Linked DNA regions of Homo sapiens. The protein of the gene in region 4 purifies or fractionates together with the protein of the main gene of each other region. This does not show direct contact. Each region holds a gene or a part of one and is shown on either strand. Other genes may lie near its edges. The genes, in order: TRIM56, PEX14, IMMP2L and PEX1.

Region 1 (7,893 bases), 8.6 Mb from region 4:
GATTACAGGTGTGAGCCACCGCGTCCAGCCTTTCTTTTTTTTTTTTTTAATTATTATTATTTTTTATTTTACTAGTCCTTGCCTGCATACATTTCCTCCAGGGTACAGAGCTTATGTGGTTCTTTGACCAAATACTGTTCTAGTCATTGCATGTATTAGAGACCAAGGCTTTCCTCGTCAAATCAATTCTGCATGGTTTTCCCATCTTCTTGGTTTTCTTTTTTTTTTTTTTTTTTTAATTTTTTATTGATCATTCTTGGGTGTTTCTCGCAGAGGGGGATTTGGCAGGGTCATAGGACAATAGTGGAGGGAAGGTCAGCAGATAAACAAGTGAACAAAGGTCTCTGGTTTTCCTAGGCAGACGACCCTGCGGCCTTCCGCAGTGTTTGTGTCCCTGGGTACTTGAGATTAGGGAGTGGTGATGACTCTTAAGGAGCATGCTGCCTTCAAGCATCTGTTTAACAAAGCACATCTTGCACCGCCCTTAATCCATTTAACCCTGAGTGGACACAGCACATATTTCAGAGAGCACGGGGTTGGGGGTAAGGTCTTAGATTAACAGCATCCCAAGGCAGAAGAATTTTTCTTAGTACAGAACAAAATGAAGTCTCCCATGTCTACTTCTTTCTACACAGACACGGCAACAATCTGATTTCTCTATCTTTTCCCCACCTTTCCCCCTTTTCTATTCCACAAAACCGCCATCGTCATCATGGCCCGTTCTCAATGAGCTGTTGGGTACACCTCCCAGACGGGGTGGTGGCCGGGCAGAGGGGCTCCTCACCTCCCAGACGGGGCGGCCGGGCAGAGGCGACCCCCCACCTCCCGGACGGGACAGCGGCCGGGCGGAGGCGCCCCCCACCTCGCTCCCGGGCGGGGCGGCTGGCCGGGCGGGGACTGATCCCCCACCTCCCTCCCGGAAGGCGCGGCTGGCCGGGCGGGGGCTGACCCCCCACCTCCCTCCCGGACGGCGCGGCTGGCCGGGAGGGGGCTGACCCCCCACCTCCCTCCCGGACGGGGCGGCTGCCGGGCGGAGGGGCTCCTCACTTCTCAGACGGGGCGGCTGCCAGGCGGAGGGGCTCCTCACTTCTCAGACGGGGCGGCTGGGCAGAGACGCTCCTCACCTCCCAGACTGGGTCGCGGCCGGGCAGAGGCGCTCCTCACATCCCAGACGGGGCGGCGGGGCTGAGGTGCTCCCCACATCTCAGATGATGGGCAGCCGGGCAGAGACACTCCTCACTTCCTAGATGGGATGGCGGCCAGGAAGAGGCGCTCCTCACTTCCCAGACTGGGCAGCCGGGCAGAGGGGCTCCTCACATCCCAGACAATGGGCGGCCAGGCAGAGACACTCCGCACTTCCCAGAGGGGGTGGCGGCCGGGCAGAGGCTGTAATCTCGGCACTTTGGGAGGCCAAGGCGGGCGGCTGGGAGGTGGAGGTTGTAGCTAGCCGAGATCACGACACTGCACTCCAGCCTGGGCAACATTGAGCACCGAGTGAACGAGACTCCGTCTGCAATCCCGGCACCTCCGGAGGCCGAGGCTGGCGGATCACTCGCGGTTAGGAGCTGGAGACCAGCCCGGCCAACACAGTGAAACCCCGTCTCCACCAAAAAAATACGAAAACCAGTCAGGCGTGGCGGCGCGCGCCTGCAATCGCAGGCACTCGGCAGGCTGAGGCAGGAGAATCAGGCAGGGAGGTTGCAGTGAGCCGAGATGGCAGCAGTACAGTCCAGCTTCGGCTCGGCATCAGAGGGAGACCGTGACCATGGAAAGAGAGGCAGAGGGAGACCGTGGGGAGAGGGAGAGGGAGAGGGACCTTGGTTTTCTTTCTTTTCTTTTTCTTTTTTTTTGAGATGGAGTTTCATTCTTGTTACCCAGGCTGGAGTGCAATGGTGCGATCTGAGCTCACTGCAACTTCCACCTCCTGGGTTCAAATGATTCTCCTGCCTCAGCCTCCCAAGTAGCTGGGATTACAGACGCCCGCTCCCACGCCTAGCTAATTTTTGTATTTTTAGTAGAGATGGGGTTTCTCCATGTTGGCCAGGCTGGTCTCGAACTCCTGACCTTGAGTGATCCACCCACCCCAGCCTCCCAGAGTGCTGGGATTACAGGCTTGAGTCACCGTGCCTGGCGCTTGGTTTTCTTATAATCTTCATTATTCTTTGCTGTGCCTACCTTTGTAATTTGTAGATAATGGAATGTGTCCACCCGGACTTTGATGATGTCCTGCATTGTTTCAATAAACAAGAAATGGTTTTCCCAGAAAGGGATTTTCTTTTCCCTCTACCTATGCCCTGCACATTCCATCTGGACTTGTCCAAAATCCCTCTGGTTCCCACGAATGCCCCACTGTCCACAGTCCCCACATTAAGACCCCCTTCTGCCATCTCTCAACAGCCCCTGGCTAAAAACATTCTCCAAGCCTACTTGCCCCCTCAATTCTACCACTGCCACCACTTATGAAAAGGTCCGGTGGTCACAGCCCACCTCCGACGGGTTCCTCCCTTCTGGTTTGACACCTCTATCCGTCGCAGCCCCATTGCACCTTCTAGGTTTTCTTGGCACCTCCAAGTTCCACTTGGCCTGCAGGGTTTAGCTGTTTCCCCAGCAATAGTGGCCCACAGAGGACAACCTTCCTTCACCCCCTAGTTCAGCCGAGTGAAGGCCAACATATCTCAAAAGGAATTTTGCTGGAAAATGAAGAGAAGGCAACACATAGACCCTGGGAAATGGAAAGACACCGAAGCAGAAGCGTTGGAGCCTAGAGATTTTTCTATCCTATGTACCTCTTCCCTCAGACTGGCTCCGTGGCTGCGTGGAGGGCTCCCCTGCTCTGACACTCATAACTTGGTATTTATTTATTTATTTATTTATTTATTTATTTATTTATTTTAACACTTGATCTTAGCTGAGAAGTGATGGATAACCTGCTTTTTCTGTTGTTTCTGTTTTTTTTTTTTTTTTTTTTTTTCGAGATGGGGTCTGGAATGCAGTGGTGCGATCATAGCTCACTGCAGACTCAAACTCCTCGGCTCAAGGGATCCTCCCACCTCAGCCTCCTGAGTAGCTACGTTGAAAGGCATATGCTACTACACGCAGCTAATTTTTAATCTTTTGTAGAGATGGGGTCTCGCTATGTTGCCCAGGCTGGTCTCAAACTCCTGGCCTCAAGCAATCCTCCTGCCACAGACTCCCAAAGTGCCGGGATTATAGGCATGAGCCACTGCGCCTGGCAGAGCCTGGTTTTTTTTTAATACTTAATCTTAGCCAAAAGGCTGAGAAGCGATGGAGAATGTGGATTTTTGGACGTGAATTCTGTTGGGTTTGGTTTTCCAGTAGCCTATTCTCTTCGCAGCCTTTGAACCTAACACCTCTTTGGCCCCAGCTGCTGTCTGCACTTGCAGACCCTCCTGCAAGCTCACCCTGTACTACCGCCGGGGGATGCCGTGATCAAGGAGCATCCTGCCTGTGGCTGGCAGAAGAGGCCATTCACTGCCCATTCGAAATCTCAGGCCTCCTCTGACTCTGTAGGACCCTGTGCCAGTCCAAGGGGGGCCGGGGTCTCAGCTCTGTTCCACAGTGCACACGCCTGACCCACCCTGGGCCCTTCTTGGCCCCAAGACTCTCCCTCGGCTACTCTATCAGGAATGGTTTTGAAGAATGCAAAGCAGGACAGGCTCACAAACCTCAGAAACCTAAACTATATAGCAGCGGCGGTGGTGGCAGCAGCCACCCACAAAAAGCAAGAGGCAGGTGAACTCCCAGCATCCCCCTCCACCCACCTGCCTCCTCTGCTTCTGAGAGTTAAGGTCACGCCACCACCTTGGTCCCTATTCTCACACACTAGAAGACGGGTTAGCAGTTTGGCACTCCATGTTGAAAAGTTGCCAACCCCTGCCCTTCAGGAAAATGTCCTCGGCCTCCACCTCCCACGGACAGCTCTGCCTCCTTCCTGCCCTCTCCCTCCCCACTCCCTCTCACCCTAGTCCTAGCCCCTTTAACTGTCCGGAGAACGGACCCGAAAGATGTGGATGGTCCCGTTACTGAGGGACACGACCAGGTACCTGCCATCCACCATGGTGGTAACCCGGGGCTTTTCCAGGCCGTGGTAGGCTGTCAGGAAGTCTCCAAGGAGGGACCCCTTCGGGTCCAGGATCACCACCTTGTTGACTTCTCGAAGGGTCAGAAAGATGTAGCCCTTCTTATCCACAGACACGGAGCCCGGCTGGCAGCCATGCAGGCCTGGCCCCTTGTACTCCCCAACCACCTGGCCCAGCCCATCACAGATTACCACACTATTCTGCTGCCAGTCCGACCCCACGAAATGCCCCTGGGGGCTGGTGGTCAGAAACACCAGCGCCCGCAGGCCCCGGCTGGCCTTGCCTCCAGGAATGAACCGGGTGGCCAGGCTGCCTTCCATATTGTACACCTCCACGTGGCCCGCCACGCTGACAGCCACGCGGTCCCCGCTAGGCAGTGCCGCCACCGCGTGGCTGGCCTGGGAGAGGCTCAGGGCCCTGCGCCACTGCACTTCGCCGTTGGGGTTGATGAGATAGAGCCGTGCGCTAGCGGAGAAGGCCACCGCGCTCTGCAGGGCGGCCACGCTGCAAGGGGAGCAGCCCTCAGGGACCGGCACGGTGCCCTTGTAGTCGCCGTTGAGGGAGAAGCGTTTCAGTGCCCGGTTCTGCTCATCCGCCACCAGGATCTCCCGGGGACCGAAGGGACAGAGCCCGGTGATCCGGGGGGACCGCTTGTCTCCAGGCATCCGCGTGGGGAAACTGCAGTAAAAGATGGGTCTGGGGAGGAGGCCAGAGCCGTCCAGATTCGGCCCCAGGGCTGGGCTGGGCTCCCGGGAAATTGACTTGAGCCTGCCTTTGAACTTTTTCTTCTTGTTGGGTCTGCCACCCCTGTGGGGCTGGGGTCCTCCATCCTCGTGGGGTGTCTGGGCCCTGTCCTCCTCCAAGGTCTGGGCTCCCTCTTCTCGGGTTGTCTGGGCTTTTTCCTCTTTTGGGGTCTGGGCTCCATCTCCAGCCTGGGGCTGGACTCCACCCTGTCTCTCAGTCTTCGGCTCATCCTCCCTCCGGCTCTGGCTCTCCTCACCTCCCTGGGTACCAGCTCCGTCTTTCCCACCATCCTTCTGGGGCTGCTGCTCCTCAAAGGACAGCCGAAGAAGGTGGCAGTTCTTGTCCAGGAGCCCAGGATGGAGCTCCAGCTGTGGGAGCAGGCAGGGGGCCGGGCCTGGTGCCCAGGGGCAGCCCTGCAGCTGCCTGAGCCGCTGTGCGATCGCCCCTTCCAGGGAGAGGATCTCGGCCTCTCGCCCCAGGCTGAGTACCCGGCGGGCGAAGGCGGCTGCGGCCCTGGCCACCTGCTCCCGGCCCTCAAGCTCCGCCAGCCTCTCCCGAGCAGCTTCTTCGGCAGCCTCCACGTGGGCTCGTAGCTGCCCCAGCACCTCCTGCTTCTGGGCCAGCAGGGCCCGGAGGACGCCCTCAGCCGCCTCCTCCACCTGAGTCCCCACCCGGGCCGCCTGCTCCCGCAGCCGGGCTAGCGCCTCCTTCTCCACCCTCCGCGCTGCCTCCAGCTCCACCAGGTTATTGTCCACACCGGCCAGCAGTCCCTCCAGGCCCGGCCTCCGGGCACGCACAGCTTCAGCCAGAGGCAGGCAGGGGTGGTCCAGGTGGGGGTCTAGGCGGCACTCTCTGCACAGCAACTGTGAGCAGGGCTGGCACAGGAAGCGCAGTGCCTCCCCGGGGTGCTGGGGACACTGGGCCGCTTGGCGCTCCCGGGCCTCCTCATCATACCACCCGGCCCTGTAGCCCACCAGGTCCACCACGCGGTGGGTGTGGGTCTGGCGGGTGCAGCGGTGCCCGTCGGCACAGGCCTGGCACAAGTCATCGGCACAGTCCAGGCACCGGGCCGTGGCCGGCCCCCCGGTGCTGGTGCCACCCACCAGGGGACACAGGGCACAGGCTGGCTTCCCGGCACGCAGGTCTCCACAGGCCCGGGCCTTCACCAGGTCCAGCAGCCCATTGACGAAGAAGTTGGTCTTGAAGGAGGCCACACCCTCGGGCGGCACAGGCACTGTCTCGCGGCACTCGGGGCAGCGGACGCGGCCGCCATCCGCCAGCTGTGCCAGGCAGTCTTGGCAGTAGGTATGCAGGCAGGGCAGTGTCTTGGGTGCCCGCAGCTGCTCCAGGCAGATTTTACAGGCCAGGAAGTCGCTGCTCAGGGCCTCCAGGAGGGAGGGCGAGGACCCGTGGGAAACCATGCTGCAGGCAGAGGCGTCAGGATCAGAGTTGAGAAGGCACCTTCACCAGCTCACCCTCTAGCTTCTACCGCCCGTCCTCAAGCCCCACGGATCCCCAGGGCTAGGGGCTGACCCAAATGGCCGGGAAGGAACCTGAGGTCTCACCTGAATGGCCAGGAACTTCCTTCTAGTCTTCTGAGGCCTTGGGCCACTTGCTCTTGAGCTAAGGAGCTGCCCTCCTCCTTCTCCTCCTCCTCCTCCACTTCCGTGTGTACATCCAGCAAACGTAAAAATGTCAGTGCTACTTGTTGGGTCAGACCTGTGAGAACTGACAAGACCAGGAGTCCCTGGCCTTAGCTAATAATCGAATCCTCAGTGTCCCCAGTCCACAGGCCTTGTGGCAAACATGGTGGAAGCCCTCCTGTGTGCACAGGTACTGGGGTCCTGCTGTATAGGGTGCCAGGGTGCGAGGAGCAGGCAGTAAGGACACAGACGGGGATCCCAGTGGGCAGAGATGCCTAGGTCCTGCCAGTTGGGGTAGGATCTTGCAGTAGCTTAGGGGGCTTTAATCCTCCAAGCCCCATACACCTGCCTTCTTTTTATTTTATTTTAGTTTTTAGCAATAGGGTCACCCTCTGTCACCCAGGCTGGAGTGCAGTGGCGTGATCGTAGTTCACTGCAGCCTCAAACTCCTAGACTCAAGTCTTTTGAGTAGTTGGGAGTACAGGCATGTGCCACCATGCCCAGCCTTTTTTTTTTTTTTTTTTTTTTTTGAGACAGAGTCTCACTCTGTTGCCCAGGCTGGAGTGCAGTGGTGCGATCTTGGCTCACTGCCACCTCCACCTGCCAGGTTCAAGTGATTCTCCTGCCTCAGCCTCCCGAGTAGCTGTGATTACAGGTGCGCACCATCACACCCGGCTAATTTTTGTATGTTTAGTAGAAATGGAGTTTGGCCCTATTGGCCAGGCTGGTCTTGAACTCCTGACCTCAGGTGATCCGCCCTCCTCGGTCTCCCAAAGTGCTGGGATTATAGGCGTGAGCCACCATGCCCAGGGGCCCAGCCAGCCCATTTTTTAAAAATTATCACTTTTTGTAGAGATGGGGTCTTGCTATGTTGCCCAGGCTGGTCTCCAACTCCTGGCCTCAGGCTATCCTCCCGTCTCGGCCTTCCCAAAGCATTAGGATTACAGGCATGAGCCACCGCACCCGCCTGGCCTTACACCTGTCTTCTGCTAGACCTGGGGCAGCATCGCGGGTGGTGGAGGCCCCACTTTCTGCATTTAACAGTTTCTAAAGCGGATTCTGGAGCGGGCAGAAAAAACGCTAGGGGAAGGGCTGGTCCCCTTCCCGCTGCTGGCTCACCCTCTGATAGACTTGGCCTTGGCTTATCTCCTGGAGTCCTGTTCTTTTAGCTTTTCCTGCTGAATGCATTCCAGAAACCTCTGGAGGGAGGGAGTCCCGAGCTCCTGGCACAGTGGCTGAGACCTACTTGTTGGGCAGACTAGGTGGAATGTCCCCTTTTCTGGAGCTGGGAGGAGACCTCAGAGAGTGGGACGGGGTCTTTCTTGCGGGGACCTGTGGCCACGGAGCGGGAGGGAGGCGAGTGCAGTTTCCCTCCTGCCCTCTCCTCCTGCCTTCCGGGTGCCTCT
Region 2 (7,893 bases), on a different chromosome or scaffold from region 4:
CCATCCTGGCCAACATGGTGAAACCCCATCTCTACTAAAAATACAAAAATTAGCTTGGTGTGGTGGCGCACGCCTGTAGTCCCAGATACTTGGGAGGCTGAGGCAGGAGAATCGCTTGAACCTGGGAGGTAGAGGTTGCAGTGAGCTGAGATCACGCCACTGCACTCCAGCCTGGCGATAGGGCAAGACTCCGTCTCAAAAAAAAAAAAAAAAAAAAAAGAAAGAAAGAAAAAGTAATAAAGTATATAATTAAAACTTAAAAAGAAAACTCTACGTCCAGATGGCTTTACTGGTAAATACTATCAAACATTTAAGGAAGAAATAATGGCAATCTTATATAAACTGTTTCAAAGAATACAAAAAAAAAAAAACTGCCAAACTCACTCCATGAGGCCAGTACTATCTTGACATAAAAACCAAAGATTTTACACATCCACATACAAAAAAACTATAGAATAATATCCCTCACAAACATAAATGTTAAAATCCTTAACGAAATACTATTGAGTCCAGCTATATATAAAAAGCATAACACATCGAGTAGAATTTATCCAATGAATAAAAAATTGGTTTAACATTTCAAAAATCAATCAACATAAATCACCATATTAATAAAAGAAAGGAAGCAAACAAAAGGATCAACTCAATAGAGACAAAAAAGAGCACCTGACAACATTCAAAAATAATTTTTTTTTTTTAAGAGACAGAGCCTCAGGCTGGGTGCAATGGCTCACGCCTGTAATCCCAGCACTTTGGGAGGCCAAGGTGGGCAGATCACAGGGTCAGGAGTTCAAGACCAGCCTGGCCAAGATGGTGAAACCCCATCTCTACTAAAAACACAAAAAAATTAGCCAAGCATGGCGGTGGATGCTTGTAATCCCAGCTACTCAGGAGGCTGAGGCAGAGAATCGCTTGAACCCAGGAGGCGGAGGTTGCAGTGAGCCGAGATCGCGCCACTGCACTCCAGCCTGGGTGACAGAGCAAGAGTCTGTCTCAAAAAAAAAAAAAAAAGAGACAGAGTCTCCATCTTTCAGCCAGCCTGTAGTGCCTGTAGTGCAGTGGTGTGACATAGCTCATTGTAAGCTGGAAATCCAGGGCTCAAGTCATCCTCCTGCCTCAGCCTCCCGAGTAGCTAGAACTCCAGGTATGTGCCACCATGTCAGACTCATTTTTTAAAAATTTGTATAGAGACAGAGCCTCGCTATGTTGCCCAGGCTGGTCTCGAACTCCTGGCCTCAAGCAGTCCTCCTGCTTCAGCCTCCCAAAGTGCTGGGATTACAGGCGTGAGCCACTGTGCCTGGCCTCAAAACACATATGATTAAAAAAAAAAAAAAAAAAAACTCAGCAAACTAAAAATGAAGGTTGAATTTCTTCAACTTGACAAAGGCACCTATTACAAAATACCTATAGCTAACACTTAACTGTAGAAGACTAAAAATATTTCCCCCAAAATGGGGAACAAAGCAAGGACATCCACTTCCACTGTTACTTTTAACATTGCACTCAAAGTCCTAGACAGTGCAATAAAGCAAGAAAAATTAAAAGCATATTAATGGGAAGGTAAGAAGTAAAGCTGTCTTTATTTGCAGATGATACCATCATCTATAGAGAAATCACAAGGAATGTACAAAAAAGCTACTAGAGGCCGGGCACGGTGGCTCACACCTGTAATCCCAGCACTTTGGGAGGCTGGGGCAGGCAGATCACCTGAGGTCAGGAGTTCAAGACCAGCCTGGCCAACATGGTGAAACCCCGTCTCTACTAAAAATACAAAAAAATTAGCCAGGCGTGGTGGCGGGCGTCTGCAATCTCAGCTACTAGGGAGTCTGAGACAGGAGAATCGCTTGAACCCAGGAGGCGGGGGTTGCAGTGCGCCAAGATCACGCCACTGCACTCCAGCCTGGGTGACACAGCATGAGTCTGTCTCAAAAAAAAAAAAAAACTACTAGAATTATAAGTTAACAAGGTTGCAGATACAAGACCAATATATAAAATTCAATTTTATTTCTACATAGTAGCATTGAATAATTAAAAAATAAAATCCATAAATATAACAGTATCCTGAAAACAAAAAAATATTTAGGCTCGGCCCTGTGGTTCATGCCTGTACTTCCAGCACTTTGGGAGGCAGAGGTAGGAGGGCTACTCAAGTCCAGAAGTTCAAGACCAGCCTGCGCAACACAGCAAGACCCCCTCGCTACAAAAATTCAAAAAATAATTAGCTGGGCATGGTGGCATGCACCTGAGTCTTAGCTACTCAGGAGGCTGAGGCTGGAGGATCACTTGAGCCCAGGACTTGGAGATTACAGTGAGCTATGTATGATTGCACCACTGCACTCCAGCTTGGGCGACAAAGACAAAAAAGACCCTGTCTCTTAAAAAAAAAAAAAAAAAAAAAAAACCACACACAAATAAATAACACTACACACTCACCAGAATGGCTAAAAACATTTAGACAATTTAGACAGTTTCTTACAAAGCTAAACATACTTACTACATAAGCCTACCATTCCACTTACAGGTTATTTCCCCAGAAAAATGAAGAATATGTCCTCGCAAACACTTACACATACACAAATACTCACAGTAGCCCAGAATGAGAAGGAATCCTGTGGGGAACAGACTCTAAGGTGACCCCATGATCCCCACCTCCTGGTATCCATGCCCCTGTGCTGTTCCTTCTACTCAAATGTGGCCAGGATCTGTTACTTGCTTCTGGCCAACACAATATGGCAAAGGTGACAGCATGTACGTGACTGCATTAATGTGGGTGAGATACGTCGTGGTAATGTCCACTTTACTAAGAGACTCTCTCTTCTGCTGGCTTTGAGGAGGCAAGTGGGAAGACTCATTTGGCAAGAAACTGAGGGCGGCCGCTGGCTGACAGTAACACACTAAAGTCTCCAGTCTCATGGTCCATAAGGAACTGAATGCCACCAACAACCACACAAGCTAGGAAGCAGACCCCTCCCTAGTCAGCGACCACAGTCCTGACAGATTTCTCAATAGTAGCCTGGTGAGACTCAGCCCAGTGGTTTCCTGACTCCTGACCCACAGAAACCATGAGATAATCAATGTGTGCTGTGCCAAGCGGCTAAATTTGTGGTAATACTGTTACGCAGGAATCAAAAACTACTACAAATGTCCATCAACTGGTGAACAGATCAACAAATTGAGATATAGCCATCCATACGATGGAATACTACTCAGCGGTAAAAAGTAATTCATGGTCAGGCGCAGTGGCTCACGCCTGTAATCCCAACACATTGGGAGGCCAAGGCAGTTGGATCACATGAGGTCAGGAGTTGGAGACCAGCCTGACCAACACAGTGAAACCCCATCTCTACTAAACAAAAAAAAATTGGCTGGACGCAGTGACTCACACATGTAATCCCAGCACTTTGGGAGGCCGAGGTGGGCAAATCATTTGAGGTCAGGGGTTCAAGACCACTCTGGCCAACATGGTGAAACCTTGTCTCTACTAAAAATTCAAAAAAATTAGCCAATTAGCCGGCCATGGTGGTGGGCGCCTGTAATCCCAGCTACTGGAAGGCTGGGGCAGGGGAATCTCTTGAACCCAGGAGGCAGGGGTTGCAGTGAGCCAAGACTGAGCCACTTCACTTCAACCTGGGCAACAAGAGCGAAATACCATCTCAAAAAAAAAAAAAAAAAGGTAATTCATTACTGATAATTACTGATACATACCATAACACAAATAAATTTCACAAACATTATTCTGAGCCAAAAAAGACATAAAAGAATACATAATTCATTCATATGAAATTCTAGGAGGGACAAATATACTCTATAGTAATAGAAAACAGTTCAGATTTCCTAGGACCACAGGCAAGGATTCAATGGGAAGGGGCGTAAGGGAACGTTTAGGGATACTGAAACTGTTGATCTTGCTTGTGGCAGTGGTGGTTACACAGGTTTAGGGTGGTAGTGGTTACACACGTATATACAATTTGTCAAAACTCAAACTGATCACAACACACCTATTAGAATTCCACAGTAAAGTTTAGGCCATAAGACTTTGTCAGTCAATACAATATTAAACTAAAATACTAAAAAAAAACTTGGCCAGGCCAGGCGCAGTGGCTCACGCCTATAATCCCAGCACTTTGGGGGGCCGAGGCGGGTGGATCATGAGGTCAGGAGATTGAGACCATCCTGGCCAACATAGTGAAACCCCGTCTCTACTGAAATATAAAAAGTTAGCCAGGCATGGTGGTGCACACCTGCAGTCCCAGCTACTCCGGAGGCTGAGGGGGGAGAATCGCTTGAACCTGGGAAGTGGAGATTGCAGTAAGCCGAGATCATACCACTGCACTCCACCCTGGAGACAGAGCAAGACTCCATCTCAAGAAAGAAAAAAAGAAAAACTTGGCCATGTTCACACCTGTAATCCTAGCACTTTGGGAGGCCAAGGCAGGAGGATCACTTGAGCCCAGGAGGTCACGACTGCAGCGAGCCATGACTGTGCCACTGCACTCCAGCCAGGGTGACAGAGTGAGACCCTGTCTCAAAAATTTAAAACAATACTAGCAAAGTTGCAAAGAAAGCAACTAATTTAGCAAGTTAACTTTATGATGGAGAAATGTGATAGACACCACCTTAACCAAACAATCAAACTTCATCTTCGACAATGGGACTCGTTCCTCCAGATATGATACACAGATAGACACAACGTCACTTACATAATATTCTCACAAAAGAATGTTTAACCCGGATCTAAATGTAAGGGAACAAATCAGACAAATCCAGATGGTGGAACATTTCACAAAACAAGTAGTCCAGACTCTCCAAACATGTCAATACCATAAAAAATAAAAAACGTAGATGAACTCACCAGAAATGCACATATTATGTTCACAAAAAGACACGTACAGGTATTTTCACAGCAGTACTATTTGTAATGACCCTAAAGGTGAAACAATCTAATGTCCATTAAAAGTAGAATGGCTCAGGCCAGGCACGGTGGCTCATGCTTGTAATCCCAGCACTTTGGGAGGCCAAGGCAGGTGGATCATGAGGTCAAGACATCGAGACCATCCTGGCCAACATGAAGAAACCCCATCTCTACTAAAAATACAAAAATTAGCCGGGCATGGTGGCACATGCCTGTAGTCCCAGCTACTTGGGAGGCTGAGGCAGAAGAATCACCTGAACCCGGGAGACGGAGGTTGCAGTGAGCTGAGATTGCGCCACTGCACTCCAGCCGGTGACAGAGCGAGACTCCATTTCAAAAAAAAAAAAAAAAGTAAGATGGGCCACCCGCAGGGGCTCACGCCTATAATCCCACCACTTTGGGAGGCCAAGGTAGGTGGATCACTTGAGGTCAGGAGTTCGAGACCAGCCCGGCCAACATGGTGAATCCCCCGTCTCTACTAAAAACACAAAAATTAGCCAGGCATGGTGGCCAGTGCCTATAATCCCAGTTACTCAGGAGGCTGAGGCAGAAGAATCACTTGAACCTGGGAGGCAGAGGTTGCAGTGAGCCAAGATCATGCCACTGCACTCCAGCCTGGGTGATAGAGCAAGACTCAGTCTCAAAAAACAAAAAGTAGAATGGTGGCCAGATGTGGTCACTCACACTGGTAATCTCAGCACTTTGGGAGGCCCAGACGGGCAGACTGGTTGAGCTCAGGAGTTCAAGACCAGCCTGGGCAACATGGCAAAACCCCGTCTCTACAAAAAATACAAAAATAATTAGCCAGGTGTGGTGGCATGCGCCTGTGGTCCCAGCTACCAGGGGAGCTGAGGTAGGAGGATGGCTTGAGCCTGGGAAGCAGTTTGCAGTGAGCCGAAATCGTACCACTGCACTCCAGCCTGGGCAACAGAGCCAGGCATTGTCTCAAAAAAAAAAAAAAAAAAGAGTAGAATGGTTAATAATAAATGGCCAAACACATTCATACAATAACTGTATAAAGCAGTGATAATAAACTGTCACTGTTCTCATCATGAATGAATCTCAAAAATATGTGTTAAGTAAAAGAAGCCTGGGAGACTGAGGTGGGAGGCTCACTTGAGGTCAGGAGTTCAAGACCAGCCTGGGCGACACAGCGAGACCCGACCTCTACAAAAAATAATTAGCTGGGCATCATAGTGCATGACTATAGTCCCAGCTACTCGGGAGGCTGAGGCTGGAGGATCACTTGAACCCAGGAGGTCAAGGCTACAGTGAGCTGTGATAACACCTCTCCACTCCAGACTGGGTGACAGAGTAAGACCCTGTCTCAAAAAACAAACAAACAAACAAACAAAGTTTAAGGCTGGACGCGGTGGCTCCCAGCACTGTGGGAGGCCGAGGTGGGTGGATCACTTGAGGTCAGGGGTTCGAGACCATCCCGGCCAACATGGCAAAACCCTGTCTCTATTAAAAATACAAAAAAATTAGCCAGGCATGGTGGCGGGCACCTGTAATTCCAGCTACTTGGGAAGCTGAGACAGGAGAATTGCTTGAACCCAGGAAGCGGAGGTTGTAGTGAGCCAAGATTGCACCACTGCACTCCAGCCTGGGCAACAGAGCAAGACTCTGTCTCAAACAAAAAAAAAAAGGAAGGAAAGGAAAAAAAAAAAAGACTAAAGAGACAAATCAATGCAATCTCTGTTTCTTCACTAGATTCTGATTTTTTTTAAGTGTGAAAATTTGAGTGCAGATTCTGTTTTAAATAATACTATTTATCAACACTTAAATTTCTTGTGTGATAATGATATTGTGGTTATACAGGGGAATAACCTTACTCTTATGAGAGATAAGGTGAAATATTCTAGGATGAAATATCCTTGATGTCTGTAACTTACCACAAATCCTTCCAAAAAAAAAAATATATATATAGAGAGAGAGAGAGAGAGAAAGAGAGAGAGAGACTGACATAAAGCAAATTCAGCAAAATGTGAACAGTGCATCTTGGTTAAGTTTTTATGGGAATTTTACAGAAGTTCTCAGTATTATCCTTTCAACTTTTCTATACGTGAGAAATTTTTCAAAATAAAAAGTTGAGGCCAGGTGCCAGGCTCACACCTGTAATCCCAACACTGTGGGAGGCCGAGGCAGGTGGATCACCTGAGGTCAAGCATTCAAGACTAGCCTGGCCAACATGGCAAAACCCCATCTCTACTAAAAATACAAAAAAATTAGCTGGGCATGGTGGCGGGCACCTGTAGTCCCAGCTACTCAGGAGGCTGAGACAGGAGAATCGCTTGAACCCAGGAGGCAGAGGTTGCAGTGAGCCGAGATTGTGCCACTGTACTCCAGATCGGGAGACAGAGCAAGACTCCGTCTCAAAAAAAAAAAAAAAAAAAAAAAAGTTAGCCAGGCGTAGTGGCACACACCTGTAGTCTCAGCTACTCAGGAGGCTGAGGCAGGTGAAGCAGGAGAACCGCTTGAACCTGGGAGGCTGAGGTTGCAGTGAGCCGAGATTGAGCCACTGTACTCCAGCCTGGGCAACAGAGGGAGACTCCATCTCAAAAACAAAACAAAACAAAAAAAAAAAACATTGAGAGGGCAAATACCTTGTCTGACCTGCTGTTATTCAAGAGTTCAACAGACTCTCAAAACTACATGTAAAGACTGGGAGAAGAAAACTAACTCTGAGCACTTACTATGCAGCAGGTGCTCTTCACATCTGTGATTTCAGTCAACACTAAAAGGGTAATTATTTTTTATTTTATTTATTTATTTTTTAAGTGATAGGGTTGCACTCTGTTGCCCAGGCTGGAGTACAGGGGTTTATTCACATATGTGATCATCGTGCACTACAGACTCCAACTCCTGGGCTCAAGCAATCCTCCAGCCTCAGTCTCCTGAGTAGCTGGAACTACAGACATGCACCACCACACCCAGCTTTAAGGGTAACTATTATTGCTCTCGTTTTACAGAGGAGAAAA
Region 3 (7,893 bases), about 19 Mb from region 4:
ACCAGGGGTTAGGAGAAGGGAGGGATGAATAAGCACAACCCAAGATTTTTAGGCAGTGAAAATACTCTGTATACTATAAGCATACATACATGGCATTACACATTTGTCCAAACCCACAAAATGCACTACACCAAGAATGAACCCTAATGTAAACAATGAACTTTGGGGGATAATGATGTGTCCATGTAGTTTCATCAATTGTAGCAAACGTACCATTCTGGTGGGGGATGTTGATCATGCAGGAGAGGCTATGCATGTGTGAGGGCAGGGAGTAAATGGGATATCTCTGTACCTTCCATTCAATTTTACTGTGAACCAAAAGACCCTAAAAAAAAGTCTATTTTAAATAAGGCAAAATATCTGCGGCAATCTTAATCTTCTCCTATCAATTATTACTTCACAGGTCCTCTGTTAACTATTTAGTAGAAAGCATCCTTGGCTGTCAATGCTAACCTTCTGCACAGCTCTTATTTACACACACATTGCTCCTCATAACATCTGCTCTGCCCACTGTAGCCTGCTTATCCTCTAATGGTCATCAGTATACTGAGTCCAAAGACAGGGAAGGAGTCAGGTACAAATGAGATGGAGAAGACAGGTAGTGGGGCTAAGGAAGCAAAGAACTGCTAAAGAGGGAAGTCAGCAGATAAATCTGCAGGAGAAAATCTGCAGCAACAAGGAGAAAAGAATCCTGAGTTGATACAAATTTGTTTATTGGTTTACATAATGGGAAAATCATATGAAATGAAATTATCCTAAAATACAAAACATGATGACATTACAAACATTTCCCTTCTTTAAAAAAAAGTCTTTGCTGTATACAATTCCGTAACTAGAACTTGATAATCTGTTTGCAATGTGTCCCCCAGCGACAAGCAAGATGATTTTTCAAAAGTTGACTGTAAATGCTACATTTTTCAAAGGAAAGATATATAAAAGTGTGTGTGACAAAGACCTATGTCTCAGAATAACTTGGAAAAAAGTACAAATATTAAATTTTTATGATTTATTGCCTGAAAGAAAGTTGTACACTTTTATATTCTGGGTATTCTTAATCTAAGAAGTCAAGAACATACTATGTATTACCAAACTGGGCAAGAGTTCAATGAGATTCTGAAAGTTATACCTAACGTACTATGTATTACCAAAAACATACAATATGTTTAGTAACAAATAGTATGTTAGGTATGTTAGGTATGACTGTTAGAGGTGTGTGTGTGTGTGTGTGTGTGTGTGTGTGTGTGTGGTCACTTGCTTGCTTTGGTCATCGGTGAGGAAGCCAGGCTAAGCAACTAACAAAGAGTCCAAATATCTGAGTCATTTATGAGAGGCTAAGGGCTCCAGTGGCAAATCAGGGACCTATAAGACAGGCTCAAAGATGGTTCTGGCAGGATCCACCACCACCATCACTACCACCTCAGCAAAATACAACCTTCTTCATCTGAAGTTTCAGGGAAGCACAAAGGCTCGAGTTCTGCCAGCAGTCCAGCTCAGTAAACACTGATTAAGCACCAGTGAAGTACAAAGCATTAGGTTAAAGGTGATAAAAGACACTGAATAGGAGGAAATATAGCCCCTACTACCTTAAGAATTTTCCAGTAAAAAATATGGTAAGACTATAATCCAGGCAAGGTAGAGCAAGTACTAAAAGAGAAATACAAAGAAGGCATTCAGAGGTTTCCTCAAGGAGATGCTCTAGAATGAAACCTGAGGCTATTACTCAGATGACCAACAAGTTCATGCTATAGCCACTGCTCGTTTATAATTTTCTCCCATTCAATGTACTACTTCTACACCAGAGATGTGAGAAACTTGAAAAAGGCTATTTTGTTCTAGCTGATTATTAAAGGGGGAGAATTCTTGAATATAAAGTAAGATATAAGGTAAAGCAAGCAGGAAAGGATTTGGAGCAAGGTGTGTCATAATGCTAACATGGCACAAAGCAAAATAATTCAACTTCCATTCAGTTTTACTGGTCAAAAGGAATAGCATCATTTTTGTTTTGTTTTGTTTTGTTTTGAGACAGAGTCTCACTCTGTCACCCAGCCTGGAGTGCACGGGCACAATCTCTGCCCACTGCAACTTCCACCTCCAGGGTTCAAGAGATCCTCCTGCCTCAGCCTCCTGAGGACCTGGCATCACAGGCATGTATCATCACACCCGGCTAATTTTTGTATTTTTAGTAGAGACAGAGTTTCACTATGTTGGCCAGGCTGTTCTCAAACTCCTGACCTCAAGTGATCCACCTGCCTCGGCCTCCCAAAGTGCTGGGATTACAGGTGTGAGCCACCATCACTTCTATAACACATTTATATGCTGCTTTAATGGTTTACAAAGGACTCTCACATAAATGCTTACAATGAAACTCAAAGCAATCCTATGTCAGGTAGAGACTGTTATCCTCTCAGAGAGCCTACCCTCACAAGACAGTCCACAATGATCCTTGCCTCATGTCCTTGTGTAATCCACTCCCATACTGAATCAGGGCTGGTCTGTAGAACCAATTGAATACATCTGAAATGATGGTGTATGACTTCCACAGGTAAGTCATAAAGGGCACTGCAGTTTCTACTTTGGCAGCTTGAATCTCGGGAAAGTCATCTGCCATCTCATGAGAATAGTCCCACGGCAAGCCCATTGTGGAAAGGAACCAACCTGCCAACACCAACTGGCCAGCCAAGTGAGTAAGCCACCTTGGAAGTGAATCTTTTAGCTCCAGTGATGCTCCTATAAAACTTCCACTCCTGCTGATATCTGACAGCAACCTCCAGAGAACCAAGCAAGGACCCTCAAATTGCTGACCCACAGCAACCATGAGATAACAAACAATCATTGTTGTTTTCAGCCACTAAGGTTTTCATGTTACAAAACAACAGAGAACCCAATTTTACATATGAGGCTCAGAGAGGTTAATTTACCAATTATCATATAGGAATGAGTAGAGAAAACAGATCTGGAACCCAGTCTTTAGGCTTTAGGTTCAATTTGTCATTAAACAATACCACTTTCTTCTCAACTAAAATAAGGTATAATACTGTAAGGATGATCATTCCTACACGATTATATGACTGATACTAGTATGTCAAGCTTCCTACAGTACAGAGACACAGTATATGTCCCTGCATTCTTAACGAATATAATGGGAATCTCCAAAATAAGTCCATTTGTGGTGCTCCATTGTGCTCTGTGGAGTTGTTACTATTTTCTGGAAAATGGCTATTTTTAATGTGCATATCATGAAAATAAACACTTAACACATTTAGAGAATTTTAATACTAAAATATTACTGACACTGAGACTACACACTTAAATCTTAATTACAATAAGCATCTGTGTAATTTTAAACAATTAGAATATATCAGACAGGAAATGCTCAACTGCTATTTCTTTAAGGTTCTGCATTTTGGCTTTAGGTCTTCAACCTTGTAGCATTACACAAATGTAGTAAAATATATCATCAAAATGCTCGTGATGGTAAAATATTAAATCAAAATCCATAAAGTAGTTCCTATCTTACAGGACAAGGTAGCCAGCTCTTAAGCCTGTCCACTTCTGGAGAAGGTCAAGAGAACATTTTATTGTTATAATCACATCTGCATATAATGTTCCTTCACACAAATCTCCTCTTTTGAGCCATATAACTTTGCAAAACAGGTAGGCAGGACGGGTATACTACCATCCTATTTTTCAATGATGGCCTTAGAGAAGTCTCAGTAACTTAACTAAGGATACGTAACTATTAAAAGGAATTCAAGAATCTAATCTACAATTTTTTAGCTCCAAATCCCAGCCTTTTCTTCTAAGCCATGTTTTAGCCCAGTGGTTCTCCACCCTGACTGCCATGAGGACACCTAAGATGCTTTGAAAATATCACTGCCTGGACCTCATCCCCCAGATACTTGATATAATTGCACTGGTTTGTGTTAGCTGTCTAATATATAATAAACCAGTGTTGGTAAATTCACAGAAAGTTTATATCACAAGGGAGAAAATGCTGATACGTCTATATGTAAACTGAAACATATTAACCCCCTAAGAACTCCCTCAAACACAAAAATATCTTGCAATAAAATCACGCAGAACAAGAAGAAAGGGAAGATGAGAAACCCAAGCCCCTTCTGCTGCTATCGTGGGGCCATTAAGGAATATTTTATTCCCCTAATCTTACTCCCCGAACCTCACCATGCCATATCTCAAGCTATAGCTCAGGTATCACCTTTTGTGAGACCTTCAGGATCACAAAAATAATGAAGTCCATTTTTTGCATCTATCTTACCTTGAACTCTATCATAGCACATATTGTCCCTCAAAGCATTGCTTTATTTTTATTTTATTATTATTATTATTATTATTTGAGATGGAGTCTTGCTCTGTCACCCAGGCTGGAGTGCAGTACCACATTCTCGGCTCACTGCAACCTCCACCTCCTGGGTTCAAGTGATTCTCCTGCCTCAGCCTCTGGGATTACAGGTACATGCCAGCATGCCTGACTAATTTTTGTATTTTTAGTAGAGACGGGGTTTTGCCATATTGGCCAGGCTAGTCTCGAACTCCTGACCTCTGGTGATCCACCCACCTCAGCCTCCCAAAGTACTGGTGCTGCTTTATTTATATATCCATTTTTCTCACTGCCCTGAGGGGTCCTTAACCCATTTATGCTGGAGGTTGCAAATTTTTTTTGTGAAAAATCAGGCCTTGGCGATGACCTTGAGAAGTAGGATATAAATAACTCCCACTAGCTTAGCGCTCCAATAATGGAGCACTAGGCATAAATGCATTAAGATCAGATCCCTATGTTACTCATCCTTCCTGCCATATATATCTTTGTATCCAGGGCCTTTACCATAGCAGATATTAATACATGTTGGCTATGCTGAATGATTTTTATGTTTGTTATCATTATTTCCTCCATTCTCCTAGCAGACACTCCTGTGAAATTTTTCAACTTTTAATAAAGGAAAATGGAGTTTTTACGCACAACTGGATTAGGTTAGAGAATAATGTATGCAAAAGGGCCAGACGTAGTGAGAGCAAGACAGCAGTGAACTGTGGGGCAGGAAAGAATAGAGTAGAAAGGACATTTAAAATTCATATCTGACAGTTGGGGTCAGATATGAATTTTGCAAGCCGGGAAGGAGTAGGCAAACAAAGCGACAACCTAATCTTCATTCACAAAAAAAAAAATATGACAAGCAAGGAATCAGGCAACTGTATTTTCAACATCTCCCTTTCTATGGTGTTTCTAACTCACAGCATACAGACATGTTGTTTCTCTCTCAAAAAATAAAATCTGAAGCAGTGATATGATTTCACTATGTATTTGACTTTTTTTTAAGATTCCACATGTGAGATAATACAATATTTTTCTTTCTGCATTTGGCTTACTTCACTTAGCATAATGTCCCCTAGGTTTACCTATCTTATGGCAAAAAGCAGAATCTATTTCTTTTTTAAGGCTGAATAATATTCCATTCTATATATGTACTGCAGTTTGATTTTCTGTTGTCTTTTGTTGGACAGTTAGGTTGTTTCCATATATTCACACCCATCAAGATGGCTACTACCAAATAAAACAAGAGATAAGTGTTGGCGAGGGTGGGAGAAAAGAGAACCCTTGTATACTATTGGTACAACCATTATGGAAAAAGTAGGGAGGTTCCTAAAGAAATTAAAAATAGAACTACCATTACTTCTATTTTGTACCAATTAGCCATCCCTCTTCTGTGTGCATGTATATATATATATATATACATACCCAAAGAAAATGAAACCGCAACCTTGTAAAGATATCAGTCGGAATTTTTAAAAGCTCTCTAGGGGATTCTAATATGTGTGCATACAGAGATGGAGAATAAAACAGTGATCCCAGGGGAGGGGGAAGGAAATTGAGATGTAGGTCAAAGGACACAAAGTAGCAGCCATGTATAATGAAAGAGTTTGGGAACTCATGTACAGCATCAGTACTATATAATACTGTATTGTATTCCTGACTTTTGCTAAATGAGTAGATTTTAGCTACTCTTGTCATACACACAAAAATGGATAACTATGTAAGATGATGGATGTTACTATGTCTCACTACAGTAACCATTTTACTATTTACATGTATTCCATAACATGTTATTTTCCTTAAATATACACAATAAAATGTATTAAGTAAATACCCTGACTGAAGAACAATTATCTCCTAAGAGGGACCCAAGCATATCTACTCTCTATTCTCATGTCCAGCCCCCTTCAGCCTCATCTCCTATTCAGTCCTTTACCCACAGCACGATAGCTTTACCTCCACCACTACAATGAAACCAGTGACTTCTAACAGTCATTGATGATTGTAACTTTACAATCATCATCATACTTAATGGCCACTCTCCTTCAGCATCTTTACATCTTTCTCTTTTATGGTTTCTCCTTTAAATTTTTACATTCTCTAAGACTAATTTTTAGCCCTTTTCTCTTCTCTTTCTATACAATTCCTCTATGTACTTTTATCCGTATCTATGGATACTTCAGTTACTCTCCATATGGTAAGAACACACAAATCTGTTTCTCCAGCCTTTGCAATCTCTTGTGATGTTCCAGGATCCTATATCCAACTGCCTTCTAGACATCTCACACTTGCCAATGATATGCCCTGCGAGCATGTTAAACACAGGTCCAAAGTTGAACTCATTCTCTTCTCCCTCATACCTTCTTCCTCTTCTCTTTTCCCACTCACAACCCAGAAACCTAGGAAGCATTCTAACATTCTCCCTCTCCCATATCTTTTACATTCAAACAGTCACAAAGACCAGCAAATTCTCCCTCATCTTACTTTTCCTAAACATTCTCACTTCTCTATTCCCACTACTTCCACCTTTATCTAAGCTTTCAACCTCTCTTATCCCTACTGATGTACTGTCCTTGAAAGCTTCCAGTCTTGCCATGACCCCACACCCAACCCCACTCTACCCTCAATCTACCCAGCACACTGCTTTCAGTGATCTTCCATGACACTCACAATTCTTCAGTGGCTCACTACTACACATGGTATAAGAAGTGTACCCTGAACTGGCTATCCAGTTTCATCTAGGAAGTGTACCCTGAACTGGCTAACCAGTTTCATCTCCTTTCACTCCTGACCTTGTCCTTCACACTCTAATATAACTGACCTACATATAGTTCCCAGTATACACTATGTTCTCGTAATGCCACACAACTACTCATGCTGTTAGCTTTACCTAGAAATGCTTTCTATTGCTTGTCAACATGCCCACTCCTACTCAGTTTTCAAGTCTCAGCTCAAACACAACCACTACTAAAACCCTTACCTGGTATTGCAGGCAGAGATCAAGAGCTCTTGCTAGATTTCATTTGTACTTGTACCTACCTCTGTTATAGCAAATAGCATACAGTATTTGAACTATTGGTCAAGATATCTGTAGTCCTACAGACTATAAGATCCTTGGTCAAAGATGACTTTTCATCTTTATATCCTCCTAACTAGTTCAATTCACACAGTCACTAGTTCCATGTACATTACTAGCTCAATGCAGATAGATATACTAAAAAAAGGAGGGGCGAGGTTAATGAATAAGGTACGAGTCAATGAAAGAACAAGAAAATCAACTGGACTTTGAGTATAGAAAAAAAAACACCAGATCTTAAGAACGTACAGACATCTTTAGTACAGACATCTGTTACTGTAGTACAGATATCCATTACTAAGTCCTAACCATTAAAAAAAATAGAAAAATATGGTTATTCAGGTAGTATGAAGATGACAAAGAAAAAAACTTATTATTGGACTAAGTAGACATTAAGAAGGTAAGAGTTTCCAGCGGAACAGTTGACAAAGATCAACAGAGAAGCCAGAGAAAAAGATGGTTCTTTCTAGGAAACAAGTAATTCATT
Region 4 (7,893 bases):
ACTCTTAGCAGGTTTTTAATACACTTCACAATGCAAGGTGTTACAAGGAACTTCATACTTTATTATCAATCATATGTAACAAATAGTATTTTATTAAATATTCAATAACATGCTATTACTTGTATTGTAGTCTTCTGCAGCAAATTGGGACTCAACAGAAAAATATTTTTATCTTTTTCTTTTTCCCAAGAATGAACTATACTCAGAGAAAATTCCTTCAGTCCTATTAAAAAGAAAGTAATAAATGCAGAGTTAGTACTGAAACAGAGATGAAATAATTTAAGATTTTAAATGTCAAATTTATTTAAGTTAAAGACTTTTTTTTTTTTCCCCCCAACAGGGTCTCACTCTGCTGCCCAGGCTGGAGTGCAGTGGCAGGAACACAGACCTCCTGGGCTCAAGTGATCCTTCTGCCTCAGCCTCCCAAGTAGCTGGGACTACAGGCATACACCACTATGTCAGGCTAATTTTTGTATTTTTTTGTATAGATAGGGTTGCGCCATGTTGGCAGGCTGCTCTCGAACTCCTGGCCTCAAGTGATCCGCCTGCCTCGGCCTCCCAAAGTGCTGGGATTACAGGCATGAGCCACTGCACCCGGCCAAAGATATTTTTCAATACATAAAAACTACTGTTTAATTATCATAATTATATTTCACTATTCACATACTGTTCACAGGTATGACAGGTTGCAAGAACAATTAAAAATGTACAACTATTTAAATAGAAAAAAAAGTCAAAATAACAAATGTACTCACCATCTTTAGTTTCCAGCTTAATAAATTCTTCCTCTGATATTACCAAAGGAAGCATGGTGGTAGTAGACTGCTGTAGCCATGAATAAAATACAGTTTTTATGTCTTCTTCACTTATGTCTTTAGGCTGCCAGAAAAAGGAATAGTAATGAATTATCCTCATATCTGAACTTAACTTTAACACCCTTATTTTAACATCTGATCTTCCTAATAAAGTGTAAGCCTGACCAAACAAATCCAATGAAGGATGTTCATGTTCTATAGGCACAGGTCTGGGATTTGACATTACAGTTAGCACAATGAGTGCAGTGTAGCCTGAAGAAACATCTGTTAGGCGGAAAAGTTTTAAATGCTCCTTTTCTCTATGCCCAGTGATACATCTACCATAATGTGGCTCACTCAATAACCATTCCAACCCCATTCTCCCTTTCCTCCCTCTACGATAAAGACAGGAAAACAAATTCCTTTTTCTTTGAGACAGAATCTCGCTGTATCGCCCAGGCTGGAGTGCAGTGGCGCAGTCTCCACTCACTGCAACCTCTGCCTCCCGGGTTCAAGCGATTCGCTTGCCTCAGGCTCCCAAGTAGCTGGGATTATAGACATTGCAGCTAATTTTTGTATTTTTGGTAGACATGGGGTTTCACCATGTTGGCCAGGCTGGTCTCAAACTCCTGGCCTCAGGTGATCCGCCTGCCTTGGCCTTCCAAAGTGCTGGGATTACTGGCATGAGCCACCACGTCTGGCCTAATAATCTATTTAAAAAAATTTTTTTTGAGATATTGCCTAGGCTGGAGTGCAGTGGCACAATCATAGCTCACTGCAGTGTGGAACTCCTGGGCTCAAGAGATCCTCCCACTTCAGTCAGCCTCCTGAGTAGCTAGGACTACAGGCATGTGCCACCACATGTGTCTAATTTTTATTTTTACTTTTTTTGAAATAGAGTCTCGCTCTGTTACCCAGGCTGGAGTGCAGTGGTGAGATCTAGGCTCACTGCAACTTCCACCTCCTCAGTTCAAGTGGTTCTCCTGCCTCAGCCTCCTGAGTAGCTGAGATTACAGGATTAGCACCACGCCCCGATAATTTTGGTATTTTTAGTAGAGATGGGGTTTCACCATGTTGGCCAGGCTGGTCTCCAACTCCTGACCTCAAGTGATCCACCCATCTCAGCCTCCCGAAGTGTTGGGATAACAGGCGTGAGCTACCACGCCTGGCTTAATTTTTTTTTTAATTTTTTTGTAGAGATGGGGTCTTGCTATGTTGCCCAGGCTATTCTCAAACTCTTGGCCTCAAGCAATCCTCCCACCTCAGCTTCCCAAAGTGCTAGGATTACAGGTGTGAGCCACTGGACCCCACCTGCAAAGATCTTTAAGTTCAATATCTCATTTCCTGACTCTACCAGTATCCAAAGAATTAACTGAGTAAAAAGTAAAACAGTCTAGCACTCTTTTAGGCTACAATATTAATACTGAAACAACATGGGACAATTTTTTTTAATTACAACCACGTGGCAAAATGATCAATCTCTTAAAAGCCAAAAATATTCATATTTGCATTGGCAAATATAAGTATTTGTGTTATCATTTATTAAAGATTTCTCAGCTTCTCAAAAAGTTAAACATAATTCCTAGGTATATCCCAAAGGAGCTGAAAAGAGGAACTCAAACAGATACTTGTACACCAATGTTCACTGTAGCATTATTCACAGCAGCCAAAAATGTGGAAACAACCCAAGTGTCCATCAACAGATGAATGGATAAACAAATGTGGTATATGCAGTCAATGGAATAGTATTCAGCCATGAAAAGGAATAACATTCTGATACATACAACACAGATGAGCCTTGAAAACATTATGTTAAATGAAATAAGTCAGATACATAAGACAAATGCATACTTCTACTTATATATGAAATATCTAGAATAAGTAAATTCATAGAGACACAATATACATTAGAGATTACCAGGGACTGGGGAAAGGAGTGGACGGGGAATTATTGTTTAATGGGTACCAAGTTTCTCTTTGGGGTGATGGAAAAGTTCTGGATATAGATAGTGGTGATGGTTGTACAATATTATGAATGTAATTAATGCCTTTGAATTATACACTTAAAAATGGCGAACATGGCATATTTTATGTTATATATAGTTTAACACAATAAAAAAAGATTTGTATCAAAAAGGAATACAACATTCTTATTACTTAGCTAAAGCAACTAGAAATCTTACAAAACGTGTAAAAGAATTTTGATGTAACATATATATTTGAACTCACTAAATTCTCTCTAGGTTGTAACTTTAGAGATCTTGGAATTTTAGGGGTAACTTCCACTGGAGTTATCCTGACTACGGCATGCATTTCTATATTTAGTCTCTTCCTCAGGTCATCTGGAATCTGAAATTTAAAAATAAACAAAAATATAAATATATTCAAAGCTTGGTTAAGAAATATTTCATAGCATAAATATTGATATATTAGCTTCTATGAATTTAGGTGAAATAACAGAAGCTATCATAATAACTCATAGTTGTCTCAGTCCATGCAGGCTGCTATATCAAAATATCCTAAACTGGGTGGCTAACAAACGACAGAAACTTATTTCTCACAGTTCTCTTTTATAAGAGCACGAATCCCATTCATGAAGGCTTCACCTTCATGACCTAATCACTTCCCAAAGACCACACCTCCTAATACGATCACCTTGGGAGTTGGGATTTCGACATATGAATTTGAGGAGGACAAAACATTCAAATACCAACGGTGTGACCAGATGGATGTTCAGATATTGTTATACCATGAACATTTCAATCCTCTCCCTACATTTCTTTCCTTTTCTTTACATAATCTTCAGAATTAGAGCTTTAAATGTATGTATTTGACTGTATTCACCAAACCCATCTTTTAAACTATGGCACATTTACATTCAAATTAAATGTTATTTCTAATCTTTGAGCAGCCTTTATTTGTGAAAGTTAACAACCAATGAAGAAGCTGGAATGGCCAAAACTAATCACAGACAATCTGCCTGATTGTCTGATTAAATGATTAGATCCAGACAGAAACTTAATCTAAAAAGCAGAGTAAAATTTCTCCCACCCCCTAATGAAAATGTTCTAAACTTAGATTGTGGTGATGGCTGTACAACTAGTATAAATATACTAAAAATGACTGAATTGTACACTTTAAATTTTACCTCAGCCGGGCGCAGTGGCTCACGCCTGTAATCCCAGCACTTTGGGAGGCCGAGGTGGGCGGATCACAAGGTCAGGAGTTTGAGACCAGCGTGGCCAATATGGTGAAACCTCGTCTCTACTAAAACTACAAAAATTAGCCAGGCGTGGTGGTGGGAGCCTGTATCCTAGCTACTCGGGAGGCTGAGGCAAGAGAATCGCTTGAACCTGGGAGGCAGAGCTTGCATTGAGTGGAGATCGCCACCACACTCCGGCCTGGGCGACAGAGTGAGACTCCGTCTCAAGAAAAAAAAAAAAATTATCTATATATATATATATATATATATATATATATATATATATATATATATATATATATCAATAATGATGTTAAAAATTTTTCTCAACTTCCCAAATATAAGTAAGCACTGAAAGACATAAAGACGACTTTACTCTCTATTAACTTCTAAAGAGCAGGTGCAGACATATTAATGGTAGACAAAAGCATAAATAAAAACTCTAAGGTACATATTCTGACTTAAAGAGAATTTAACAATCAAGTTTCCTGTTTGTTTGTTGTTTTTTTTTAATCACCATGCTTCACAGGGTAATAAAGGTTCAAGTTAACATGAATTTGTTAGTTGTATCACCAAGTGATCAATTTTGATCTCTCAAGCCAAGTCCATTTTAGTACCTGATTTCACCTACTGTGACTTCTCATTGTCCATGGCTCTTCAACCTTCAGTGGAGTGGGAAGGGCGGAGTCCTTATTGCTATCTTAATCACAGGACTTTACCATCAGCACTTCTCCCTGTTCTCACCATATAATTTCAAGGAAATAAAAGGATATTCCCATCTAATGACAGAACCAGCTAAATCATAAGCTCAGTGTTAGATATTTTGAATTTGAGGATGCAGTGGGATCTCCTGAACGGACAGTTTAAAGCTAACAGAAAATAATGATCTGAGGCCAGGCACAGTGGCTCACGCCTGTAATCCCAGCACCTTGGGAGACTGAGGCAGGCGGATCACTTGAGACCAGGAGTTCAAGACTAGCCTGGCCAACATGGTGAAACCTCGTCCCTACTAAAAATACAAAAATTAGCCAGGAGTGGTGGCGCACACTTGTAGTCCCAGCTACTCTGAAGGCTGAGGCAGGAGAATCATTTGAACCTGGGAGGTGGAGGTTGTAGTGAGTGGAGGTGGTGCCACTGCACTCCAGCCTGGGCAACAAAGCAAGCTTCTAACTCAAAAAAAGAAAAGAAAAGAGAAGAGAAGAGAAGAGAAGAGAAGAGAAGAGAAGAGAAGAGAAAAAAGAAAAGAAAAGAAAAGAAAAGAAAAGAAAAGAAAAGAAAAGAAAAGAAAAGAATGGTCTGGAGCTTTAGAAAATGATGTAGGCCGGCCAGGAGCAGTGGCTCATGCCTGTAATCCCAGCACTTTGGGAGGCCGAGGCAGGCAGATCACCTGAGGTCAGGAGTTCCAGACCAGGCTGGCTAACATGGTGAAACCCAGTTTCTACTAAAAATACAAAAAATTAGCCAGGCGTGGTGGTGCATGCCTGTAGTCCCAGCTACTCAGGAGGCTGAGGCAGGAGAACCACTTGAACGTGGGAGGCGGAGGTTGCAGTGAGCCAGATCATGCCACTGCACTCCAGCTTGGGCAAGAAGAGTGAAACTCCATCTTGTGGAAAAAAAAAATAGAAAAGAAAATGATGTAGGCCAAAGAGATTAATGCTTTGTCAGTTATTTGTATAAAGGTCACAGGTAAAACTGTTGGAGAAAAAAAAAAAATCTACAAAAGGAGACAACCTTCTCTTTCTATTTTATTCTCTTTCCTAACAAGTTCCTCTCTTTATCACTATGAAGTCTTACTTTACAGTGGTTCAAATTTAGGTTCCAATAAATGGACTAGTGACTTATGTCATATAAAGGTAGCATTAATATTTGTGGCCAGGATGAGGGGCTGGAGCACTAGTTGCCCTGTCTACTTCCTCTCCGTTATACACAAATTAAAGAGCAGACACCGGCAGGGTAAGCAGCTCCTGGATGCATTCCAATCCAGGTGCCACCACATGCAGCAGGAAGGTTACCTCATGCCATGGATCTCTCCCTACACTGGCCCTTTTCCCTAATATTAACAAGTTGCTTTCGGTAACTGGGGAACAAATCTGCAAGCATTAAAGATGGGAGGCTTTGTAGGGCACTCCATCCTGATGAACCCCCAAGTCAATCTGCCTGGGTTTGAATCCTAGTTGTAACACTAGCTATGCAATCTCAGGCAAGTAATTTTGACCTCTCTGGCCTGAACCTATCTAAGCTTGTACCTATTCAAGCTTACTTGGCCAGAAAACATACAATCTTTATCCAAACAAGGACTTTACTGCAAAGCGTAAATGTGTCCCCCAAGTGCCTTTAGGCACTGTGTTTCTTTTTAATTGATTTTCAATTTATATATGAAATACTATTCTAATTCATAATTTGGGGATGTTTAAGCCACATAAAATTTCTCCCAAGTTATAAAATTTATACTAACCCAGACTTTCCCAAGATGGAGAACTTCTACATTTTTGGTATATTTGATGGCATTGTTCAATTCTTCAAGTCCATTCCAGACTACTTGTAGCACACAGGCCTTCTCATCTTCTTCATTATGATCTGACCTAATTTTTTTTTGATCTAGTGGCTCTGACATCTGCTTCTCTTTTTCAGGTGATAACACATTTTGTTTTGTTTTACTTTGCTGTTGCTTTGGAGAAAGTAGCTTAACTAGCTTTCCATATGTCACAGTAAAGCTGGGCTCTACATCAAAATATTCCTGGTCCCATGGAAATACATGAATGGCACAGTGTTTATGAAAAACAGAGGTTGCTGACGCGTTATATATACTAGGAGGTTGAGATTTGCATACTCTGAAAATATTGTCTAGAGGAACAACCTTTGACTGCATATTTTTGAATGCATTGATTTCAGTTAAACCCCAAGATGTCTCTTGTTTCTTCTCAGATTGAAAGGAAAAAATGCTTCCTATCATAGTCCATAAACTTGCTACTGATGATGAGTCAACTGGAATCTCTGACTCGTTTTCATTAGATTCAGTGATTCCCACAGTATTTGACTGAAGTTGCTTGGTTTGAAGTTCTTTCATCATTCCTTTCTGGTCTCTTCCATAACTATGAAGTTTTTTATATTCAGCATCAGCTTTTGAAAATGTATTCTCTTTGGCTCGGCGTGTCTTTGGCTGAATAAGGAGTTTGGTGTCAGTTTCCAGCCTTCCATAAGAGGCAGCTGGTATTAGTGCAACTGTGTAGAAAATAAAGCTCATTAGTGCACATTCATTTCTACTTTGGACTCAATGCTATAGTGTAGAATATGACAGCAAATATTACAATAGCACCTACCAATTTGGATAAATATGTACGTTTGTTGATCAACCCAAACAGGAAAAATGGCTTTTGGAAAAACTATTCGAATTTGATCTAGAAGATGTTGTTCAAGGGAAACAGCATGCAGCTCCTAGAACCAACAGACGAAAAGATCAATTCACTTTACATTTTGTCCACTCCATATCTAGTTAAAAAAAATCTCAATTCTTTTTTTAAAAAACAAATTTTAATGTGCATATTTAATATACACGACATGGTGTTATGAGCTACATATAGATAGTATAATGGTTACTATAGTGAAGTAAATTAACATATACATCATCTCACAGTTACCCACTTTTGTGTTTTTGTGGTAAGAGTAGTTAAAATCTACTCATTTAACATGAATCCCCAATACAATTTTATTACCTATAGTTGTCAGGTTGTACATTAGATCTCTATCAATTCATTCTTTTTTTATTTGAGACAAGGTCTCACTCTGTTTTCCAGACTGGAGTACAATGGCAAGATCCTGACTCACTGCAGCCTTGACTTTACGGGCTCAAGCGATTCTCCTGCCTCAGCCTCCCAAGTGACTGGGACTAATGGCATG

Evidence for each region.
Region 1: the proteins of PEX1 (region 4) and TRIM56 purify together in Homo sapiens (affinity purification with mass spectrometry, with the first as the bait; one study listed by BioGRID). This does not show direct contact.
Region 2: the proteins of PEX1 (region 4) and PEX14 purify together in Homo sapiens (pull-down; one large-scale study listed by IntAct). This does not show direct contact.
Region 3: the proteins of PEX1 (region 4) and IMMP2L purify together in Homo sapiens (co-immunoprecipitation; one large-scale study listed by IntAct). This does not show direct contact.

Annotation. Positions count from the first base shown.
Region 1 is NC_000007.14:101,085,685-101,093,577, reverse strand, and holds part of TRIM56 (E3 ubiquitin-protein ligase TRIM56), read right to left. Parts: intron 6,573-7,893; 5' UTR 6,410-6,572; intron 6,267-6,409; 5' UTR 6,266-6,266; coding exon 3,998-6,265; 3' UTR 1-3,997.
Region 2 is NC_000001.11:10,479,808-10,487,700, reverse strand, and holds part of PEX14 (peroxisomal membrane protein PEX14), read right to left. Parts: intron 3,209-7,893; exon of another isoform or gene 2,664-3,208; coding exon of another isoform or gene 2,586-2,663; intron 1-2,585. UniProt on the Homo sapiens protein: Component of the PEX13-PEX14 docking complex, a translocon channel that specifically mediates the import of peroxisomal cargo proteins bound to PEX5 receptor.
Region 3 is NC_000007.14:111,550,287-111,558,179, forward strand, and holds part of IMMP2L (mitochondrial inner membrane protease subunit 2), read right to left. Parts: intron 1-7,893. UniProt on the Homo sapiens protein: Catalyzes the removal of transit peptides required for the targeting of proteins from the mitochondrial matrix, across the inner membrane, into the inter-membrane space. Known to process the nuclear encoded protein DIABLO.
Region 4 is NC_000007.14:92,510,825-92,518,717, forward strand, and holds part of PEX1 (peroxisomal ATPase PEX1), read right to left. Parts: intron 7,432-7,893; coding exon 7,317-7,431; intron 7,219-7,316; coding exon 6,452-7,218; intron 3,144-6,451; coding exon 3,024-3,143; intron 880-3,023; coding exon 756-879; intron 224-755; coding exon 120-223; intron 1-119. UniProt on the Homo sapiens protein: Component of the PEX1-PEX6 AAA ATPase complex, a protein dislocase complex that mediates the ATP-dependent extraction of the PEX5 receptor from peroxisomal membranes, an essential step for PEX5 recycling.